3 linked regions of the Homo sapiens genome follow. The protein of the gene in region 2 interacts with the protein of the main gene of each other region in a pairwise test. Each region holds a gene or a part of one and is shown on either strand. Other genes may lie near its edges.

The links.
Region 1: the proteins of SYT4 (region 2) and NBR1 interact in binary tests that used the Homo sapiens proteins (3 or more experiments, as listed by UniProt).
Region 3: the proteins of SYT4 (region 2) and NDUFA12 interact in binary tests that used the Homo sapiens proteins (3 or more experiments, as listed by UniProt).

What each region holds. Positions count from the first base shown.
Region 1 is NC_000017.11:43,174,121-43,181,234, reverse strand, and holds part of NBR1 (next to BRCA1 gene 1 protein), read right to left. Parts: intron 5,445-7,114; 5' UTR 5,436-5,444; coding exon 5,334-5,435; intron 3,300-5,333; coding exon 3,237-3,299; intron 1,842-3,236; coding exon 1,823-1,841; intron 441-1,822; coding exon 418-440; intron 1-417. UniProt on the Homo sapiens protein: Ubiquitin-binding autophagy adapter that participates in different processes including host defense or intracellular homeostasis.
Region 2 is NC_000018.10:43,274,438-43,281,713, forward strand, and holds the start of SYT4 (synaptotagmin-4), read right to left. Parts: upstream 3,054-7,276; 5' UTR 2,845-3,053; coding exon 2,811-2,844; intron 1-2,810. UniProt on the Homo sapiens protein: Synaptotagmin family member which does not bind Ca(2+). Involved in neuronal dense core vesicles (DCVs) mobility through its interaction with KIF1A.
Region 3 is NC_000012.12:94,972,584-94,979,697, forward strand, and holds part of NDUFA12 (NADH dehydrogenase [ubiquinone] 1 alpha subcomplex subunit 12), read right to left. Parts: intron 1-7,114. UniProt on the Homo sapiens protein: Accessory subunit of the mitochondrial membrane respiratory chain NADH dehydrogenase (Complex I), that is believed not to be involved in catalysis. Complex I functions in the transfer of electrons from NADH to the respiratory chain.

The sequences.
Region 1 (7,114 bases), on a different chromosome or scaffold from region 2:
CGTACTAGTCTCTCCCCATAACTAATGGAATTCAGGTTTGAGTTTCAGTCAATAAATATTTTAGGCCAGACGCAGTGGCTCATGCCTATAATCCCAGCACTTGGGAGGCCAAGGCCAGCAGATTGCTTGAGCCCAAGAGTTCCAGACCAGCCTGGGAAACATGGTGAAACCCTGTCTCTAAGAAAAATATAAAAAGTTAGCCGGGCGTGGTGACGTGTTTCTGTAGTTCCAGCTACTCGGGAGGCTGAGGTGGGAGGATCACTTAAGCCTGGGAGGTGAAGACTGCAGCAACCCCAGATTGTGCCACTGCACACCAGCCTGGATGACAGAGCACAACCTCATCTCAAAAAAAGAAAAAAAACCAACCCATAATAATATTTTTTAAATTATTTAAAAATGAGATTAAATAATCATTACCTTAAGCGCTTCTTCATATTCTCCTAAAAGAACAAAAAATATACACCATGATACTTCTTCACACACCCCAAAAGATTCTATTATTTTAAAATTATTTTTATTTTGTACACATCCATTCATTCATTCAAGAACCAAAGATTCCATAAGATTAAGGATAGCCAATCCTAAAGATGGACTGTACAACATGAGGAACATATTATAGTTAAATAATCGTAAATTATATTCATGATTTTTGCTAAATGAGTAGATTATGGCTGGTTTCTGGGGAGGGCTCAGGGCACCACAGGGCCACTATAATGAGATGATAGATATGTTAATTTGCTTCACTACAGTAACCATTGCCACATAACATTTTGGTCAACCATGTGTATGATGGTGATCCCATAAGATTATAATGCCACATTTTTACTGTACCTTTTCTATGTTTAGATATGCAAATACCATTGTGTTTCAACTGTCTATAGTATACAGCACAGTAACATGCTCTACAGGTTCGCAGCCTATAAGCAATAGGTTATACCATATATCCTAGGTGTGTACTAGGCTATACCATCTAGGTTTGTGTAAGTACACTCTATGATGTCCATATAATGACAAAATCACCTAATTGATGCATTTCTCAGTACAAATCTCTGTCATTAAGCGATGCATTACTGTATATGTATTTCATAACATCATGTTGTGCACCTTCAATATATACAATAAAAATTTGTTAAATGTACAGCTAATCCTGACTTTAAAGAATTCTTAGCTTATTATATATGAACAGCAACTATCTTTTTGCTGACAAACTCCCTTTTTGTTGCAAACAGCATCTACTGTAGATCAGTTCTTCCCCTTAAATCCCTCCTTCATCACTACTGGGAATCTTCCAGTTACAAAATCTCAACCCAGGTCCCTCACATTTACGCACTGAGAGTTCAATGTTAATACTATCATTTCACCTGATTAAATTAAGATTTTAGGGGCTATCGTGGGAAACTAATCTTCAACTATAACATGGTTCCTATGGGAAAATGCACTCCAAGCTCTGAACATCTGATAAATAAACTTTTGGAATACCACTTGTTTTATAAGTTGATATTAACATATATACCAAGTCAGAAACAAATGCAACACCATGGGAATACTTATATGTGTTGAACTGGGAGGCATATTAATTTCAGAGGACTGGCATCTTAAATATGAGAACCTCCCATTAAAGCTGTCCTTAGGGTCCATTCAAAGGCATCATCCTATATATAAAAAACTGCTATACAATAAAATCCCCTAGGTAACTAATGTCCATCAGTGCAATGTCACTCTAAAATTAATACTGCAATAAGGTTTGAGTATAAATAGAAATGCCTCAATGAGCAGATTAAGGTTTTTAAACAAGGCTGAACAGACTCTCTTAGGGACTCACCTTGACTGTTGATGGATACCTATAAAAGGAAAAAAAGCAACAGTGAATTATAAGTGTCTCATCAGTTGAGCATTTCTGTTACTAGGACCAGCCCCATAGGACAGACAAAAACTCAGGCCAAGCGTTCAGCTTTTCCATATCACTTGCTAGTCATGAATAACACTTAAGAAATTTTATTGCTTATCTACTGTGCCCTCCTTTATTTCAGATACATTAAAAGGCAGTGCAATATAACAGTTAGGAGCTTGAGTTCTACAGCCAGAGGGTATGGACTGAACGGCTACTTTACTACTTCCAAGTTTTTGTGCATTTGGACAAGTTATTTTCACCTCTCTGTGCCTCAGTTTCCTCATGAGTAAAATAGTGATGATAATAATGTACTCAATACATGGTACTGTGGCTAGTCTGACACACTGTAACCACTCAATAAAGCTTAGCCATTAGCCTGAGCAACAAAGTGAGATTCCATCCCTCCAAAGAATTAAAAAATTTTGCCAGATGCAGAGAGGTATGTCCTAGCTACCCAGAAGGCTGAGATGGGAGGATTCCTTGAACCCAGGAGCTCTAGGTTGCAGCAAGCTATGCCAATGCACACCAGCCTGGGCAACAGAGTGAGACCCTCTTTAAAAAAAAAAAAAAAAAAAGCTTAGCCATTATATTTGTATTATTATAAACTAAGTGGTAGCTTGTGCTATATGTGAACTTAAGGTCACTATATAATTTTAAAAGTTATCTTGGCCAGGTGTGGTAGCTCACAACTGTAATCCCAGCACTTTGGGAGTCCGAGGTGGGCTGATCGCTTGAGCCCAGGAGTTCGAGACCAGCTTGGCCAACATGGTGAAATACCGTCTCTACTAAAAATACAAAAATTAGCCAGGCGTGGTGGTATACACCTGTAATCCCAGCTACTCAGAAGGCTGAGACAGGAGAATCACTTGAACCCAGGAGCTGGAGGTTGCAGTGAGCAGAGATCGCACCACTGCACTCCAGCCTAGGTTATGGAGTGAGGCTTCATCTCACAAAAAAAAAAAAAGAAAAAAAAAAAAGGTTCTCTCAGGCCAGGCCAGGCATGGTGGGTGTCTCACACCTATAATCCCAGCACTTTGGGAGGCTGAGGTGGGAGGACTGCTTGGGCCCAGGAGTTCAAGACTGGCCTGAGCAACATAGTGAGACCCTGTTTCCTTTTTTTTTTTTTAAGTGAAAGTTATCTCTGAGATATTCTTCAGTGTTGCTTCTCCATTTCTCAACTCCATCTCAGATGCTGCAAGTCTTCTTAGAATATTCAGTTATCAAATATATTTAAACCACCACACAAATAAGCTAAACACTATTTTGAATTATTAAAGCCCATATCACTGGAGAAATAAGATCCCTATTCTGAACACCTAGCAATAAGTGCCATAATATATTTTACCTCTTCATTTTCCTCATCCAGGTATTTTATTTGAATAGTATTCAGATCAAATGAAACTTTTACCTATAAAAGAGATACATATTTAAAGGCAGGTTATAATGTACACAGAAGTCAAAGTAAAAAAAACCCACAAAATCAAAAGACAAACAACAAACAACCTTAATAACCCATAACAAAGGGTTAATATCTGCAACACACCCAGAGTACCAGCAAAACTGCTAATGATACAATTAACAACCCAGGTAAAAATATACATAAAATTCATACAAGAGGAAATCAGAACACCTAACAAATACATCAGAAGACTTTCAAACTTTCTGGTGGTCAGAACAATGCAAATTGAAGCAATGAGATGACATCTCATCAGAATACCAAACTGTGTGTGTGTGTGTGTGTGTGTGTGTGTGTGTGTGTGTGTGTGTGTGTTTTGGGTGGGGTGTGGGGTAGGGAACAGCAAATGTTTTTTAAAGCCATAACATCCAGTGTTGTCAAAACTTCAGGACACTGTCATGTATTTCTGTGTGCTGCTACAATTGTTCTGCAAAGCATTTGGCAGAATCTATTAAAATTTCAAATAAAATGCTTTGTGACCCATTAATCTCACATTTGTATAGGACAGAGTTTATCCTGTAGAACAGTGTATAAGTTATGTGTATAGATGGATATCTCCTGAAGTTTCAAGATAAGAAAAAAAAAAAACGAAAAATATCTTTTTTTTTTTTTTTTTGAGATGGGTCTCACTCTGTCGCTCAGGCTGGATTATAGTGGCTTGATCTTGGCTCACTGCAGCCTCAACCTCCAGCACTCAAGCAATTCGCCCACCTCAACCTCCGGAGTAGCTGGAACCACAGGTGCCTGCTACCAGGCCCAGCTAATTTTTGTATTTTTTTGGTAGAGATGGGGTTTTACCATGTTGCCCAGTCTGGTCTCAAACTCCTGAGCTGAAGTGGTCCACCCATCTTGGCCTCCCAAAGTGCTGGGATTCTAGGCGTGTGCCACTGTGCCTGGCCAAATAATGTTTATAGTATGATCCTAGTATGATATCTGCATGAACATGGAAAATTTAAAGTACATACAGGGCTGTTAACATTGGTTACCCAAAGAAGGTGGGAGTAACAGATGAGGGGGGGGAGAATGGAGGGCTATTAACTGCTTGAGATGGTTTCTCTTCTTAAAATGGGCATGTATTATACTTATACAATTTAAAATTTACAAGGAAGAAAAAAGGCAAGCTGTCAGCTCATTTAACTACTAGGAAAAGAAAGATAACTGATTTTCACATCTTTTGGCAAACAAGATCTAACTTCTTTCTGAATCCAATCTTTTTTTTTTTTTTGAGACGGGTCTCACTGTCACTGATAGGACAGTATGAACAGGTATTTGCTGGAAGGCAGACAACTACCTCAGATCATCTTTTAAGATCTACCATTTCTTTCCCTTTTTAGTTATCATCAGATATAACCAGGTAAACGTAGATTTTTACCAAAGGGTTTCAGAGAGAAACACAGTCAACACAGGAAGTAAAACATTCACCACTGCAAACTGAACAAAAACAGAAGAGTACAAAGGGCAAACCAAGAGGAGGAAAAGCCTTAGCAAAAAAACGGAACAGGTGAACTGCTGTCTAAGCAGGTATGAAAGTTTTTCCTGCTCAACTCTGAGATACTCAACCTCTGACCTAGCAATAAAAACAATTGATAGGCTCTTGCAAAACACAAGTTATATCCTTGTGCAAAACACAAGTCATATCCTCACACAAGAGAACATTTCCTTGGGATCTGGTTGGGTGGAGTCCACACCAATTCACTCCTCATACTGGTTCTAAAATTAATAGGTTTTCTAAATCCTATCTCACTAAAAACAATTTTACCTTCCCTTTCTAAAATGTTCAAAAGGAAATTTATGTGTTGGTTCCCTTTATTGGGGCACATCTCATATATGAATACTGAAACCCTATCAAAAGCAATTTTCCAAAAGGCCCAGAAATGGTAACTATGACAGACTTCACAGCTATGAAACAACACTGCTAAAAATAGCTACCTTTGGAAAAAATAACCATGCTTAAACCAAGGAGAAACAAAATAAAGTAACACTCACCATAGCTTCGATATCAGCCCAAGTTGTATTTTCTGGATCAGAAACCAGAAAGCTTTGAATTTCATTTTTAAAAGTCACATTTAGAGTAACCTGTGGTTCCATGCTGTGAGGCTAGGGTTGAGAAGGTTGGTGGGAGAGAGAGAAAAACACATTAGAAAGGGTTCTATAAGTTGCACTAAAAGTTCACTCAGCAAATACTTGTGAGGACCCAATATGGGCTGGGCTTGGGAGACAGCAATGAACAAAAGAAACACTGTCCCTGTTCTTACGAAACTTACCATCACTGTTAAATAGGAATTGTTTCAGGAAAGAAAGATAGGCTAAAACCATGCCATAAAGACTTGTACTTAAGTCACAAAAATTATTCTTGAAGTTATTAGGAACTTCCACATGTTGGAAACATGTGGAAACAGAAGTATGCTGAAAGTATTTAAATTTTGACCACATTCCCAGAAATCATCTAGCATTTGTAAAATCCTTACGGTACTTTATGATGACTGGTTAACTAAACAAATACTTACTAGTAGCAGGACATACCAACATGGATAAGAGAGATAAGGTCTCTGCCCTCAGGGAACTTGTATTCTTGTATGACTTGAGAGTGACATTCTACATTTTTCTTGCAGAAGGAGGGTTGTCCTAACTTGAGAACCTAGGTTTTCTACCAGTTTTACGAACTTACAGGCCAAAACACTAGCCAAGAAACTACACAGAGGTAGCATTCAATGCCCTCCATCCAAGTTACTATGTTTTTTCACAATCTACTGATTTTTTATTTTATTTTATTTATTTATTTATTTTTGAGACGGAGTCTCGCTCTATCGCCCCAGGCTGGGGTGCAGTGGCACGATCTCAGCTCACTGCAACCTCCACCTCCTGGGTTCACGCCATTCTCCTGCCTCAGCCTCTCGAGTAGCTGGGGTGCCCGCCACCACATCCGGCTAATTTTTTTTTTTTTTTTTGTATTTTTGGTAGGGACGGGGTTTCACCGTGTTAGGCAAAATGGTCTCGATCTCCTGACCTCATGATCTGCCTGCCTTGGCCTTCCAAAATGCTGGGATTACAGGCATGAGCCACCGCACCTGGCCTTGTACTGATTTTTTAAATGGGGGATTTCAAACATATATAAAAGTGGAGAGTAATAAACACTTAGTTAAACCAACAATCAACTCAAGGCTATCCTCATTCACATATACCCCCGCATCTCCCACTTCTGCCCCAACAATGAACTGACCATAGTCAACTAATGTTTTAACCAAACTATAATAATATAATTATTTTATATTATTGTATTTATTTATTTTGAGATAGAGTCTTGTTCTGTCGTCCAGGCTCAAGTGCAGTGGCACAATCTTGGCTCACTGCAACCTCCACCTTCTGGTTTCAAGCGATTCTCTCACCTCAGCCTCCTGAGTAGCTGGGACTACAGGCGCCCGCCACCACGCCTGGCTAATTTTTTTGTATTTTTAGTAGAGACGGGGTTTCACCGTGATAGCCAGGATGGTCTCGATCTCCTGACCTCGTGATTCCACCCACCTCGGCCTCCCAAAGTGCTGGGATTACAGGCGTGAGCCACCATGCCCGGACTATTTTTTAAAATATTTTTATGGGAAAATTTAAATCTATACAAAAGTAGAGAGAATATAATGAATCCCTATGGACCCATAAGCTAGCTTCTTTCATAATTATCAACTCAGGACCAATTTGCTGTAACCAAAGGTTTACAGCAATACCCTTTCCCTACTAGATTATTTTGACAGACATCTATGCTTTTATCCATT
Region 2 (7,276 bases):
CTGGAGATATGAGCCTTTTGAAAAGCCTAATAGAGCTAGCAATTGCTATAGGTTGGATAGATTGAATTACTTTCCAACTGTTCTGGGTATGAGTTAAGTGTATATTTCACACTAACTTCGGGTACAAATACATCCCCACAGGAAAAACATAAAGTGTGCTAGAAATTCCTTCATTTCAGTGGTTTTTCATTAATGAAATAAAAAGATGAAAATGGTCCTGAATCAGATATGGGGGAATGCTTAATGACTCTGACCTATCTTTGTTTTCTCAGATAACATGAGACAGCTACAATATGATGGATCAGTACTAACTTCATTATTTTTTATTGTCATTTTGAGGCTTTCCAGAGCATCACTTTTTACTGGAATTCTAAGTAGTTCTTTACTCAGAATTCAAGCAGCAAACATTTAGGGACTCAGTGGTTCACTCAATTGTAGGAAATTGATTGTGAAATGATATTTGCCATTGCCACAAACTCATTAATAATTTTCATCCCAATTATGGAACAGTGGTAAAAGAAATATACATATATTAGAGAAAGTAAAACAAAAACAGAAGAGCAACAAGGTACCGATATTTTGTAACTTATAACACTATCATCCCTTTGTATGACAATCCCAAATTTCTCAGTCAAACACTGAATTATACAAAGTATAAATTAATTAAACTTAAATAAGATAAAAACAGAACAATGGTTATAAGTGAATCAGCATTCTTTAACATGTAATGAGAACAGTGAGATTTAGAGTTCAATTTTATCTATAACTGTCTCTTCCTCTAGCACATGGCATGGCAAATGATAATCAAACTGAAATTGTCATTATTTTCTTGAATGATGGCACATTAAATTACTGACATTAGGTAATATCAATTATGCATAAGGCTTATCCTATTTTATATGTAAGCATCTTTCTTGAACAAATGGTTAGTAACACTATGGAAGTAAAAGCAGTATTACTACATCTATACATAGTGAATCCATAGAGTCAATGCTTAATATCATCAAAGTGAAAATAACTAATGTAATATTATATACATTTAGTTCCATTGCAATATGCTTTTATCCTGAATAGTAAATAATAAAGTTATAAGTTCCAGCCCAGAAAGGGTTAAAACTTTTCTAAATAACCACAAGAAATCCAGTCTTTTGTTACTTCCCTTCCCCATCCCCCCAAATCTTCTGCCAATCTACTTCACAATTATAAAACTGAACTCAGAGAATGTAAGGTTAAGAAAAGACAAATGAAATAGAAGATAAAAAGGCCAATAAAATCGCAATAAAAATCCTGTATTTTAATGTACAGAAACTGAATCATGTAAAGATGAAATAAACCTTTGACTTCTCCAGGTGGAAAAAAGAAACAGTGACTACTACAGTATAAAGCAAGAGCTAAAGATAATCAGCTAAACTTGGTATCAGCTTTTCAGTTTTTCCTTCTATTCAAGTCTTTGTGAAAAAAAAATGCACCCACATTCCTGGACCATAATAACCCAAGGCCAGGGAGCAAAAGCAAAGTCATGAACTGAGAGAGTTCTTTAGCCAATGTAAAAACAATAAAAACAGTAGAAAATCATTTTTTAAAAGTAGACTGATAGTCCATGCTAGAACATATTTTCACTGGCACAGTCTCTAAAAATTCCTCCATATTAGAAAATCATTCAGGTTTCAAATGAAGAATTGGGAATAAATGTCATACCAAAATAAACCCAATAACCCAAATGGAAGGCTGGGAAAGAAATTCATTTATGAACATAATATCACAAATTGTCCCTATTGAATAGTTATGTCAAATGGCAAACATTTTCTATAACGTGGAAACACTTATCTACTCCCTATGTATTCTCTACTGATAAGGTCTTACAATCTTGAAAGTCAAGATCATAGTTATTTTACTCAGCTTAATAACAATTATCACACATCTGTAGATATCACTCCTCTTCACAACCTTCTATGAAATTTCATGATTTAAAAAATACGTGTAAGTAAAATTCTGACCTTTTTCCTTTGGAATATACTGAGATCTAAAAATAGTACTTTTTTACTCTATGAAGTACGTCTAATTTTATGTACTGAAACCAAAAACTTGGTGTGAGAAAAGGAAAACTGAACGGGAAAATTGGAGCCCTAATTCAAGTTTCCAGCAGCTTTTAGCTAATTGTGCAACCTATAATACTTCCCTCATCTCTCTGGGCTTTGGTTAGCTCAGCAGTGAAATGAAATGGGCTGAGCCAGTTCATTTTGAAACTCTCTTTAACCCTGCTACCATATGATTCTGTCTTTCACTAGCAACATATTTCAAGGATACAAGAAAAACATAGCAGAGAAAAACACCCATATGGTACGCCCTGTAATAAAATATACATTGCCAAACCCCAATAGACAAGTTGCTTTTTTTAACCAAGATCAAACCCCAATGTAACCAGAGATATATTTATCTTCTCCTAATAAAATATAGATTTACCTACAAATAAGAATCACCTACAAAATAGATGAAACCAACATGGGAAAAACAGACCCCTTTTTCTTTACTCAGTACATGCTGCAATTTACAGAAGTACCTGAAAATTTAAGAACTTCCTGAAGGTAAATTCTCCCTAACAGAAGACAGTTTCAGGGAGAGAGATACCAAGGAAGGGAGAGAAGCTGCAGAAATAAGCCACAATTGCCTGACTGCCATTCTCATTTTCCTTTTAAATTAACTACCTAGGAAATCTGTATTCAACAACCGGGCAAAAAATAAATGAATAAACAGTCCACCCCAGAGTATTCAAGGAATAACCGCAGTCATAAGTTCAGTAACTTGCTTACCAAATTCTTCCCGGCTGGTGGTGATCGGAGCCATTTTTTACTGCGTGTTCTGTCCGAGGTGCTGAAGGGAAAACTGCCTGGCTGGATTCACTTGCCTGGATCTCAAGCGCCGGCTTTCGGAGCGCTGAAAACAACAGCGCAGAGCCCAGGGCACCAGCTCCTGGAACAGGGAGGAGGCAAAGAGGGAGGTCCACTCGCCCTCGCACAGTGATTTGCCACCTCGGTTCCTGTTTTGGCTCTTCTGAGAAGCTCGTCTCCGAGACTCCAGACGTGGCTGGAACCCGAATTGACGCAATCCTGACGCTACAGGGCTGAAATCAGCACCTGCCCCCCTCCCCTCCTCCCTTCAAGCTTTCCTTCTTGCTTCCTCCCTCCTCTCTTGAGGATTCAACACATGCTCATCAATTATTTTAACTGTTGGACCACTAGAGATTAGCTTTGCTGTTTTGTGGGGGCTCAGAGGCTCACCGAGATAAGCCCCGAAACTGATCCCTGTCAGTTCCTAATATAAAATCTCCTGATCACCTAGATGAATAAAAATATGTTTCTGAGTTTTCAGAATAACGTAACTTACAGAGGAGAAGTTTCTGCTTCAAATTACTCTTTTTAACATGCAAAAACATGTTTTCTTGCTTTTTAATTTTTTTCTTTGACATGTTATACCTATGATACTTATTACATTTAGAAAAGATTCACTACAAATTGATGCATTTGATATAAGATAGTTTTCCCAGTATAATCCTTTATGTTCTAATAAATTATTAGTCTAAATATTTTGCTGGAACAGTTGATCTTTCCTGGTCTCTCAGCTCTCTTCCCTTTAATATCTGACATTTGACCAGTTAAAGCACTTAGGAACAGATGGGGATAATTCCTTGGATATTCAGAGTCACTCTCAGTTATGACTTTTGCAAATAATAAGGCGCTTCTGAAATGACATTTATGGTTAAAAGGCCTGACTTCTAGTACGTTTGTACAAAATAGTTTCCAAAATCAGGCCAACATCTAAAGTAACATTGGTAACATTGGTTATTTCAAAGGAAAGCATTCCTTTTTCTAAACTGATGATATTCTCGGAGGTGAAAAACTGTGAAAAATATGGTGTCGGATTCTGATTCATTGGAATCTGAAGAGTGTGCCTTTCTAAAACAAATGCTTAGCAATTTTTCAAAGGAAAGAAGTCAAGCTGTAACTCCAACTGTCAATTATTGCTCTGCAAAGAATTTCTTTGCTCTGGAGTTAATAAGGAAATGGCATTCAGTGTGTGCTGGGATGTGGGAGAAGGGATACAGGGTGAGTCTCAGAAAGCTACTGTGCAAGTGACAGGTCCCTGCACATTGGCTAGCAGCAGCCCAGAGCATCAGGGCTCTGTCTGGGGAGAAATTGGCTTCAGTTCTTTGCATCATGGAAAATTTTATAAACCAGTCTTTTTTCTTTGCTATTCTATTTGCTCCCACATACTTGGCATTGGAGTGTTCCTCTAACAGATTTTTTTAAACTTTATATCTTCATGCTTTGAAAACACACAAACTAATTTGCTGTATTTAATTTTTCTGCTGGCAGAGTCTGTGGTTGTGTCTTTATCATTTCACTTTATTCAGATTACCTATTTCCTTAATTATGCATGCATGCACCCTGTAGGGTTGTCCCTAGAAACAAATATCCATTAGGTTAAAGAATAAGTGGCATTTATTTGTGATGCATATCATAGGTGGACCAAATACATGGTGTGATGTTTACTAAAGTATATATTTTCTAGCTAAGTTATTGCTAACATATGTTTAAGCTCATTTGTTGTAAACATAAATACCTTATGTGTTTGTTCTATAAATTAGTATCTCATTAATTTTACCTTCAGATGGTATAATGTTGTTATCTGTAAACTGTACAGATTGTTTAAACTCTATTTCTACGGAACCCACCCCATCCTTTGCTGTCTGACATCTGAGGAAACATCGTGATAAGATTACCTCTTGCCCAGAGCTAATGCTATTGTGGACTAAGTAACTATTTCATTGCTTGCTTTATAAGCAAACTGAAAAGAACTGTTATTAATTAAAATGCCTGAAGTTTCCCTCATTTTCATTTGATGAATAACATTTTAGGTATTATTCAATCTCTTTAGACAAGCTTCTAGCAACACCAGATGAGGAGTGGGCAGTAGACAGACCCCACACAGAGAAAAACCTGTACGTTTTTATGATTGAGATTCACACCCTACCACATTACTGAATTATTCTTTTTAGATCCATCAAACAAGTAACCAATTTACTGACGTGCAAAATACCGCTCTAGCAGGGGAGACTTGGGAGGAGGAGTTGTTGCTAGGTAACCACTTTTTCACCACCCAAAACACACAGCCTCAAACAAGTTCTTGCTTTGGCAAACACAGACCATTCTGTGCAGGCGGCAGTATTTACTTCAGAATGATTTTTTCACTGTTAAAATGGTTCAACTTTCACATTACTTTCTTTTCCAATTGCAAATGTCTATACATAATTTGAGAAACAATTAATAGAACACTTGAATTTAGTTTTAAGAAATTCAGTTTAATCTGAAAGCTATTGATGACTAATTATATGTTTTTATTCTATTTTATAACGTAATTAAATTTAGTATATATTTTGATTTTTAAATTATTGTTTATGTTATTTATTAATTGTATAGTTCAGTCTATATTTTCTCTTTTCTTTGAAAAATATTATTGGTGAAAGTATTTAGAACCTCATGCTAAGAAAAATATAATTTCAAAAAGTTTTGAAAATGTTGCCATGATCTTCAGTAATCTTTAGTAATACCTACATTAGTAATAAAATATCACTTTACTAAAATATCATTTTACCTACTGGTATGTGGGTGGAGTAGACTGAAGTATCTGATGATGGGAAATGGATAATTGTTTCAATGTTCCATATTATTATATTATGAATGCTGACAATAATGCTAATGGAATAGATTTATATTACAAACACACCCAAGTAAAAATCTTGCAAGACAAATCCCTCTTCATTTGGTATCACAGAAATCCCTTTACTACATTTGTTTTTCTTCAACATATTCAGCATTTACTATGTGCATTTAATAGTTCATATATGACAGTGAAACCAAACCACCAAATAAATAAGTAAAGCTTATATTCTTCTTTTCTTTATTTTCTTTCAACACATATTAAACATGTATCACTAGATTTTTACTAAGTGAGTGATTTATATTTGTCAAAATGAGAAAAAATGATCTTTTTCTTCATGGAGCTTACAGACTATACAAGAAGTTGACAGCTTTTTTCTCTAGAACTAGACAAAGAAACTTATGAGATCATCGTTACATACATATTTATTTTGCCTTGTTCTTTCTACAAACTCCGGTCAGCACTATTCTACAGCCATCACACCTATCTTATTCAGTCTCTTCTTATTGACCTTTTCCCCCTCACTATGGATCCATTATGATTCTTACACAGATTGCATTTTTTCTTTCCCTGTATCTCTCTATAAATTCTTTATCCTTTAAGAATCAGTTGAAGTTTCATTTGTACTATGAAGTTTCTGACTTATCAGCACTCATGGATTTCTTCTGATTTAAATTCTTACAACACTATCTCTAGTGAAGTCTTTTAAGCCAGCTTGACATATCCTTGATCTACATACCAACAATCCCAAAAAGATAAACCAAAGGCCTTCACTAATGCTAACCCCAAATATTCCACAAGATTCTTAATTTTTTATCTTCTCTGCACTAATTTATTTTTAGGACTTCTATCTCCATTTTATTTTTACTTTTTAGGCCTGCCTTCACACTGCGGCCTTTGAATACACTTCTCAAATTCCTAAGTCTTGATATCTCAACAATAATTTGATCTAGAGCCATCCTAGAAGATTTTTCTCTTTCAGTTCATCTTGAATGTATTTCTTGCTAGCTCCTCTACCTCCTTTTCCAATCTATTCCTAAGTGAGACCTCTCTTAGCCTTCCATTATCACTAAAAAACTGGGATTGGGCAGAGCAGAAGTATACTAAATTATTCATTTCAGGTAATGGAGATGTAAAAAATGTTTTATTATTAGACAATATTTATTTTGAAAATATAAAGATAAACACTGGTAAAACTGGCATGGATTAAAGCTCAAAAATTACTGGATTATATATACTCTTACATAAAATAGACAGATATTAAAAAAACAGGAAGCAAGAGTAAGGTTAAAATGAATCATAAAAATGATACAAAAGAAAAACAAGCAGATAAATTGAGCAAAATCTAATCATCTAAGTAAGCATGGAAGATTGACAAATTCCAAGGTAAAAGATCTTACACTGAGTTAAAAAATAAAGTTTAACCATATGCTGCTCATAGTAAAAATACTTAAATAACAGAATGCACAATGATTTATTAAACATAGAGAAATGTAAAGGATTAAGTTAAAAAGTCAAGAATAAAACTTGCTAGGCTTTGTGGCACGCCTGTGATCCC
Region 3 (7,114 bases), on a different chromosome or scaffold from region 2:
CCAGGCACAGTGGCTCATGTCTATAATCCCAGCACTTTGGGAGGACGAGGTGGGAGGATCACTTGAGGCCAGAAGCTCAGGACCAGCCTGGGCAACATAGTGAGACCCTGTCTTGAGAAAAAAGTTAAATCGACCCCCAATTCACAAATATTTCAGTCATAAGTGCTTAACAATTTAAGAGGATATGTTCCAGAAATCAGACCTAAAAGCTGGATACCTGGAGTTGAAAGGGAAGAGACCACCGATGCTGCTGCTAATGACAGGGAAAGGAGGAATCAAAGTTTGTGGGACAGAGTGCAGGAAGCTAAGCTGAGGGGTTTACATGGGAAAGAAGGGAAGACAGAATTTGTCCCAGCCTCTAAGACCTGGAGCTCACAAGACAGAGATGACCTTATTGGGGGAAAAGAAAATGAGAAGACAGCCACAGAACTGCAGCCCGGGGGTGGGGGGAAAAGTGATTATCTAGCTGCAGAGAAAAGGACAAGAGGAGGATGTTTCAGTGGAATAACTAAAACTAAAGCTAATGAGAAAAAATTTTTGTTGCTATGTAAACCTAAGAATATTTGCTAGCAGTAATTGATAGATATAGCTAGGTAACTGACTAAAAACCAGTCTGAATAGAGATAAAATATGATTACAGTTGCTATGTTTATGTCTAAAGATAATTGTATCATGATCAGCTTATACAATGAAGAATGCAGAAGGCTGTACAAGCTAGGTCAGTGTCTGTCTTACATCCTCTAAAGGAAGCTGGGGATTAGTGAAAGTGACCTGGACCAATAAACTGTAACCATTCATATGAGCACACGAGCGCTGAAGCCCTTATGAGACGATAGTGGTGAGCCAGGCTCCACTAACCACTCAGAGGAGGGATTAGCTGTTAAAGTCAAGGCTGTCACTTATCAAGGGGCTTTATGTGAGCTTACGGCACAGCTGAAATATTTAACTTTTACCTCACTGAGTCAGCTTAACTAAAGAAAAATTTTATTCAAAAAATTGCTGTCAAGACTCCGGAAGGTTAAAATGATATTTAAGGAACCATAGTCCCAAGCTTATGCCTATTCAGTTACTTAAGTGAGGAAGTGAAGAGCTCATGGAGAAATGGAAAATGCTCCAAAAAAGGAAAAGATAATTTTTATCACAATACACAAAATCTGAAAATATTTATCCTAGCAAGCCTACATGCAAGAATCAGGGAATTAATAAATAATAAACTATACCCATTATGGCAGTTTATAAAGAATTATAAGAAATAAGGAAATGTTTATAGTCTGCTAGGCAAATATAACCCTTGTTATTTTATTATTAAATAAGGGGTAAAAAAAAATCATATCTTTCAGATTGCCACACCAGAGAGTTTTACTTGCAAAACAGACTCTTGGGTCTTTTTTTTTTTTTTTTTTTTTGAGACAGAGTCTTGCTCTGTGGCGCAGGCTGGAGTGCAGTGGTGATATCTTGGCTCACTGCAACCTCTGCCTCCTGGGCTCAAGTGATTCTCCTGCCTCAGCCTCCCGAGTAGCTGGGATTACAGGCGCATGCCATCATGCCGGGCTAATTTTTTTATTTTTAGTAGAGACGGGGTTTCACCATGTTGTCCAGGCTGGTCTCGAACTCCTGGCCTCCAGTGATTTGCCCGCCTCGGCCTCCCAAAGTGCTGAGATTAAGGCTACCGCTCTGGTCCACAAGGAGCAGTAAAAAAAACCTACAATGAGATATTATCTCATCCCAGTTAAAATGGCTTTTATACAAAAGACAGGCAATAATAAATGCTGGGAGGATACGGAGAAAAGGGAACCCTCAAACACGTTGGTGGGAATGTAAGTTAGTACAACCATTATAGAGAACAGTTAGGAAGTTCCTCAAAAAACTAAAAATTGAGCTACCATATGATTCAGCAATGATGCTGCTGGGTATAACCTAAATGAAAGGAAATCAGTATATCGAAGAGACTTTTGCACTCCGATGTTTGTTGCAGCATTGTTCACAACAGCCAAAATTTGGAAGCAACCTAAGTGTCTGTCAACAGATGAATGAGTAAAGAAAATGTGATACTTAAATACAATGGGGTACTATTCAGCCATAAAAAAGAACAACATCCTGTCATTAGTAACAACATGGATGGAACTGGAGATCATTACGTTAAGTGAAATAAGCCAGGTACAGAAAGACAAACATTGCATGTTCTCATTTATTTGTGATACTTAAAACTCAAAACAATTGCACTCATGGAGATAGAGAGTAGAAGAATGATTACCAGAGGCTGGGAAGGGTAGTGGGGTTGGTTTGGGGATTAGGGGGAGGTGGGGATGGTTAATGGGTATAAAAAAAAATAGTCAGAAAGAATGAATAAGACCTAGTATTTGACAGCACAACACAGTGACTATAGTCTATAATAACTTAATTGTACATTTTAAAACAACTAAAAGAGTATAATTGGATTGTTTGTAACACAAAGGACAAATGCTTGAAGGGATGGGTACCCCATTTTCCATGATGTGATGATCACATATTGCATGCCTGTGTCAAAACATCTCACCCCATAATATATACACCTACTATGTACCCAAAAAATTAAAATTGTTTTTAAAATTGAAAAGTGTATGTCCTAAAACACTATAAACAGGATTAAAGACTAAAAGAAACAGGGGAAAATATTTGTAATATACAGAAAAAAGGTTCATCTATCATTACAAATCAGAAAAAGTCAAATATCCAATAGAAAACTGGACAAAAAACATCAAGAGATGTCAACAAAGAAAAAATTATAGTGGCAAACAATGAAGTTTAATCAAGGCAATGCACATTAAGGTATAATTTTTTACTTGCTAAATTAGCAAAGATTTTAAAAAATAAAACCCAGAATCAGTGAACTTAAAGAGAAATCAGTACTCATATACTATTCAATATATTTATCCTGAGAATATAAATTGGTATAGCCCTTCTAGAGGGCAATTTGGCAGCAGGTATCAAAAACTTATAAAACATGTATACTCCTGGTGGATCCATTTCCATTTAAGGAAATGAGGATATGAATACTCATGTACAAGGATATTTATCAGAGCTTTATTTATAACAGTGAAAGAATGGAAAGAACAAAACCAAAAATAAAGGGAATAGCTCATGGCATATCCATATGATGGAAGACTAAGGCATTATTAACATTTATGCTATAGATAATATTTTGGCCAGGTATGGTGCCTCACACCTGTAATCCTAGCACTTCTGGAGGCCAAGGTGGGAGGATCGCTTGAGGCCATGAGTTCGAGACCAGCCTGGGCAACATGAGACCCCATGTCTACAAAAAATGCAAAAATTAGCCAGGCATGGTGGCAGGCACCTGTAGTCCTAGCTACTTGGGAGGCTGAGGCAGGGATCACATGAGCCCAGGAGTTCAAGGCTGCAGAAAGCCATGATCGTGCCTGGACAGCGGGGGATCCCATTTCTAAAAAAAGAGAAGAGAGAGAGAGACAGAGAATATTTTATGACTTGAGAAAATGTTCACCATATATGTTTTAAAAGCGGGTTATTTGCCTAATTTATTTAATACTTATAGATAGCATTTATAAGTCATGGGCACTAATCTATACACTTTACAAATATTAACCTATTTGATCCTTATAACAACTCGTGATAAATATTATTATCCAAATATAGTAAGTGAGAAAACCAGGCTGCCAAAAGTTAAAATAACTTGCAAACCCAGGCTACTTCTTCAAAAAGCTCAATTACATTAATAACAAAAACAAAAGAATATATATGCATAGAAATCGAGGAGATAAGAATAAACAGTTGTCCCTAGTGTCTATGGGGGATTGATTCCAGGACACCCTGTGGATGCCAAAATCCACAAATGATCATTTGTGGATATGCAAATGTAGCATTTGCATATAATTTATGCACAACCTCCTGTATACTTTAAATCATCTCCAGGTTACTTATAATGCCTAATATGATGTCTGCATATGACTTCATTCATGTGGATTCAACATAATACTCGGCACACAGCAAATCCAAGTTTTGCTTTTTGGAACTTTGTGAACTTTTTTCTGATATAATTTCCATCTAATGTTGGTTTAATCCATGGATGCAGAACCCACAGATACTGAAGGTCAAATGTGTATCAAAATATTAATAGCAGTGGTTTCTACAAGTGGTGGGATAACAGGCTATTCTTATTTCTTTTGTTATTTTTTGAATTTTCTATAATGAACATGCTGAGCAGTTCCTCATTCACCAAGAGTAATACATAGTTTATTTCCACATTCCACATATGGAATTTTCCAACAAGGCATCTTTGTAAAATGTTAGAATCAATATTAAATGAAGCAATGAATACTCAGTGAAATGTGTTAAATAAAAGCTGAGTTTTAAAAATCAAAACAATCTTGTCTTCTGCTTATAATGAACACATTTTAACAGAGAAAGGGTATAAAGAAAAGTAACATTCTGTAACATAAGAGAAACTACCCAATTAATGCAGTTTGTAGTTTCTTAGAACACAGTCTCCTAATATTCTGATTTTTCTGGAGCAGAAAATAAACATTAGGAAGGACTTACTTTGAAGAAAATATTATCTGCCATTGACAGCTAGCAATTTATTTAGAGAAATAATATTTTAGAAGACTGTAACAGGCTAGGCACAGTGGCTGTCACATATAATCCCAGTGCTTTGGGAGGCCAAGGTTGGAGGATCACTTGAGGCCAGGAGTTTGACACCTTCTCTCTCAAAAACAAAAACATTAGCTGGGTGTGGTGGCATGCACCTATACTCCCAGCTACTCAGGAAGCTGAGGCAGAAGGATAGCTTGAGCCCAGGATTTTGAGGTTGCAGTGAGTTATGATCACGGCACTACACTTGGCCTAGGTGACAGAGCAAGACCTTGTGTCAAAAAAAAAAAACACCCCTCCGCCCCTGCCCCAAAAACCCCACAAAACTGTAACAAATGATTCAGTGGGTCAAAGTACTAAAAAGGACAGGTTGAAATTGCAATGTAATTCAGAGGTAAATCTAGTTTCAAATTCATTAGAAAGCTATAAAGGAGTAGCAGAAGATGCCATTTTTGGATCAGCTAAAGTGAAGAAAACTGATTATCATACCCAAAAAATAATGTTTGTTTCAAGTAAAATGTATATGTACATCCATTCATTCAACAAAAATCTATTGCAGAAATACTATGTGGTAGGCACTGTTCCAACATGGTATTTGGGGAAACATACAATAAATTAAATAATATAAAAAAAATGTTAAGCAGAGGTAGTTAAGTGCCATCAAGGAAAAAACCAGAGCAGGGGAAGAGTATGGAGTATGAGAGGGAACAGGGCTCTTATAGACTAGACCACCTGAAGAGCCACCAGATGGGCACTTGAATAAAGTGAAGGTGTGTGAGCCATGCCAAATCTGGGGAAACAGCTAGTGCAGAGACTGAGTTGGGAGTATGTTCACTGTTCAAGGAAAAGCAAGAAGGCCAATGTGGCCAAGTCAGAGTCAACAGGGCTGTGACTAGGACAGTGCATGCAGACTGTGATCACATAACGCCTCGCAGAGCATGGAAGGAGTTGGGGTTTTTACTCTCACTGTGATGGGAAGCCACTGGGTCATTCTGAGCAGAGACTTGATGTGTCTGATTTACATTTAAAAATATGCACTCTCATCACTTAGCATGTTGGGAACGCTAGTGCACTGCAAGAATGTTATCAAACCAGTTGGGAGGTGACTGTAGATGTCCAGGCAAGAGATAATTGTGCCTTGGACTAGGGTAACAGTCATAGAGGCAGTGATGAGATGTGGGATATATGGAGAAACGAAAGCAGGATGAACTTGCTAACAGACTGGACATTAGAGAATTAGACTGGGGGATGACACTGAAGTTTTGGGCTTGAGTAAACAAGAGTCATTTAAGTGCTTAGGAACATTTTGCTTGATAGGTTAATCTGCCTATGCACTGGGGATTTGAAGAATTGAAAAAACTCAAATATCAAATATGTTCAATTTATAAATGTGACTAAACTGCTTAAAGAGATGTATTAACTAAATTTGCAAATGGGTATTACTGTTTAGGACAATGTAATCCTTTCCATTAGAGTTTACCGAACATTCATCAAAGAACAAGAGAAAATGATTGTTCCTTATTTTTATGCAAAAAGTAATTCAATTTACTAATCTTTTTATCCTATTTATAAATTGAACCTCAAGAATGAAAAACAATTAGGTTTTTAAATTTGCAACTATAATAAATAGTATATTAATTTTAAATCCAAATTGCCCAACAATCCTTTCTAAATACAAAAGCCCCACAGAAACTAAAACACTCGAACTGACACAGTATTTAGTGAGACAGGAAAAATGTCTGTGACATATTAAGTGAGGGGAGGGAGAAGCAAGTCAGAAAATGTTGTATACATTATATGAGAAATGTGTAGGTATATGTTATTTATAATAATAAGCTTTCTTCTAAAGAAGGTGTGACCAATAAACTACAATCAGTTTTTCACACTGTGGTCTTTAAAAAACATTCCTCTGTGGAGTCCCAGCTACATGGGAGGCTGAGGCAGGGGGGATGCTTGAGCCCAGGAGTTCAAGGCTGTAGTGTGCTATGATTGCACCTGTGAATAGCTCCTGTACTCCATCCTCGGCAACAGAGCAAGACCCCACCTCTAAAACAAACACCCCCAAAACATTCTTTCTCTACCCAAAAGCAGACCCTCAAATAGTTGTTGAATCAGTGAATAAAATATTAACAGTATTGCTTCTGGGCCAAAGAATTGTTTCTACCTCATATTAATAATTCTCCAGATTTCCAAATTTTCTATAGCAATTGTATATTCTTATAATCAGAAAAAATCTTTTAATGGTGATTATAAGGATTGTTTTAATAACATGAAAAATTGCTTATAATATTGATGGAAAAAAGCAAGTAAAATGGAGTATGGTTATGAACACAACTACACAGAAAGGATTAAAAAGGGACGGGGTGAGGTGGCTTACACCTGTAATCCCAGCACTTTGGAAGGCTGAGGCAGGCGGATCACATGAGGCCAGGAGTTTGAGACCAGCCTGGCTAACATGGAGAAACCCCACCCCTATAAAAAAAAAAATACAAAAATTAGCTGGGTG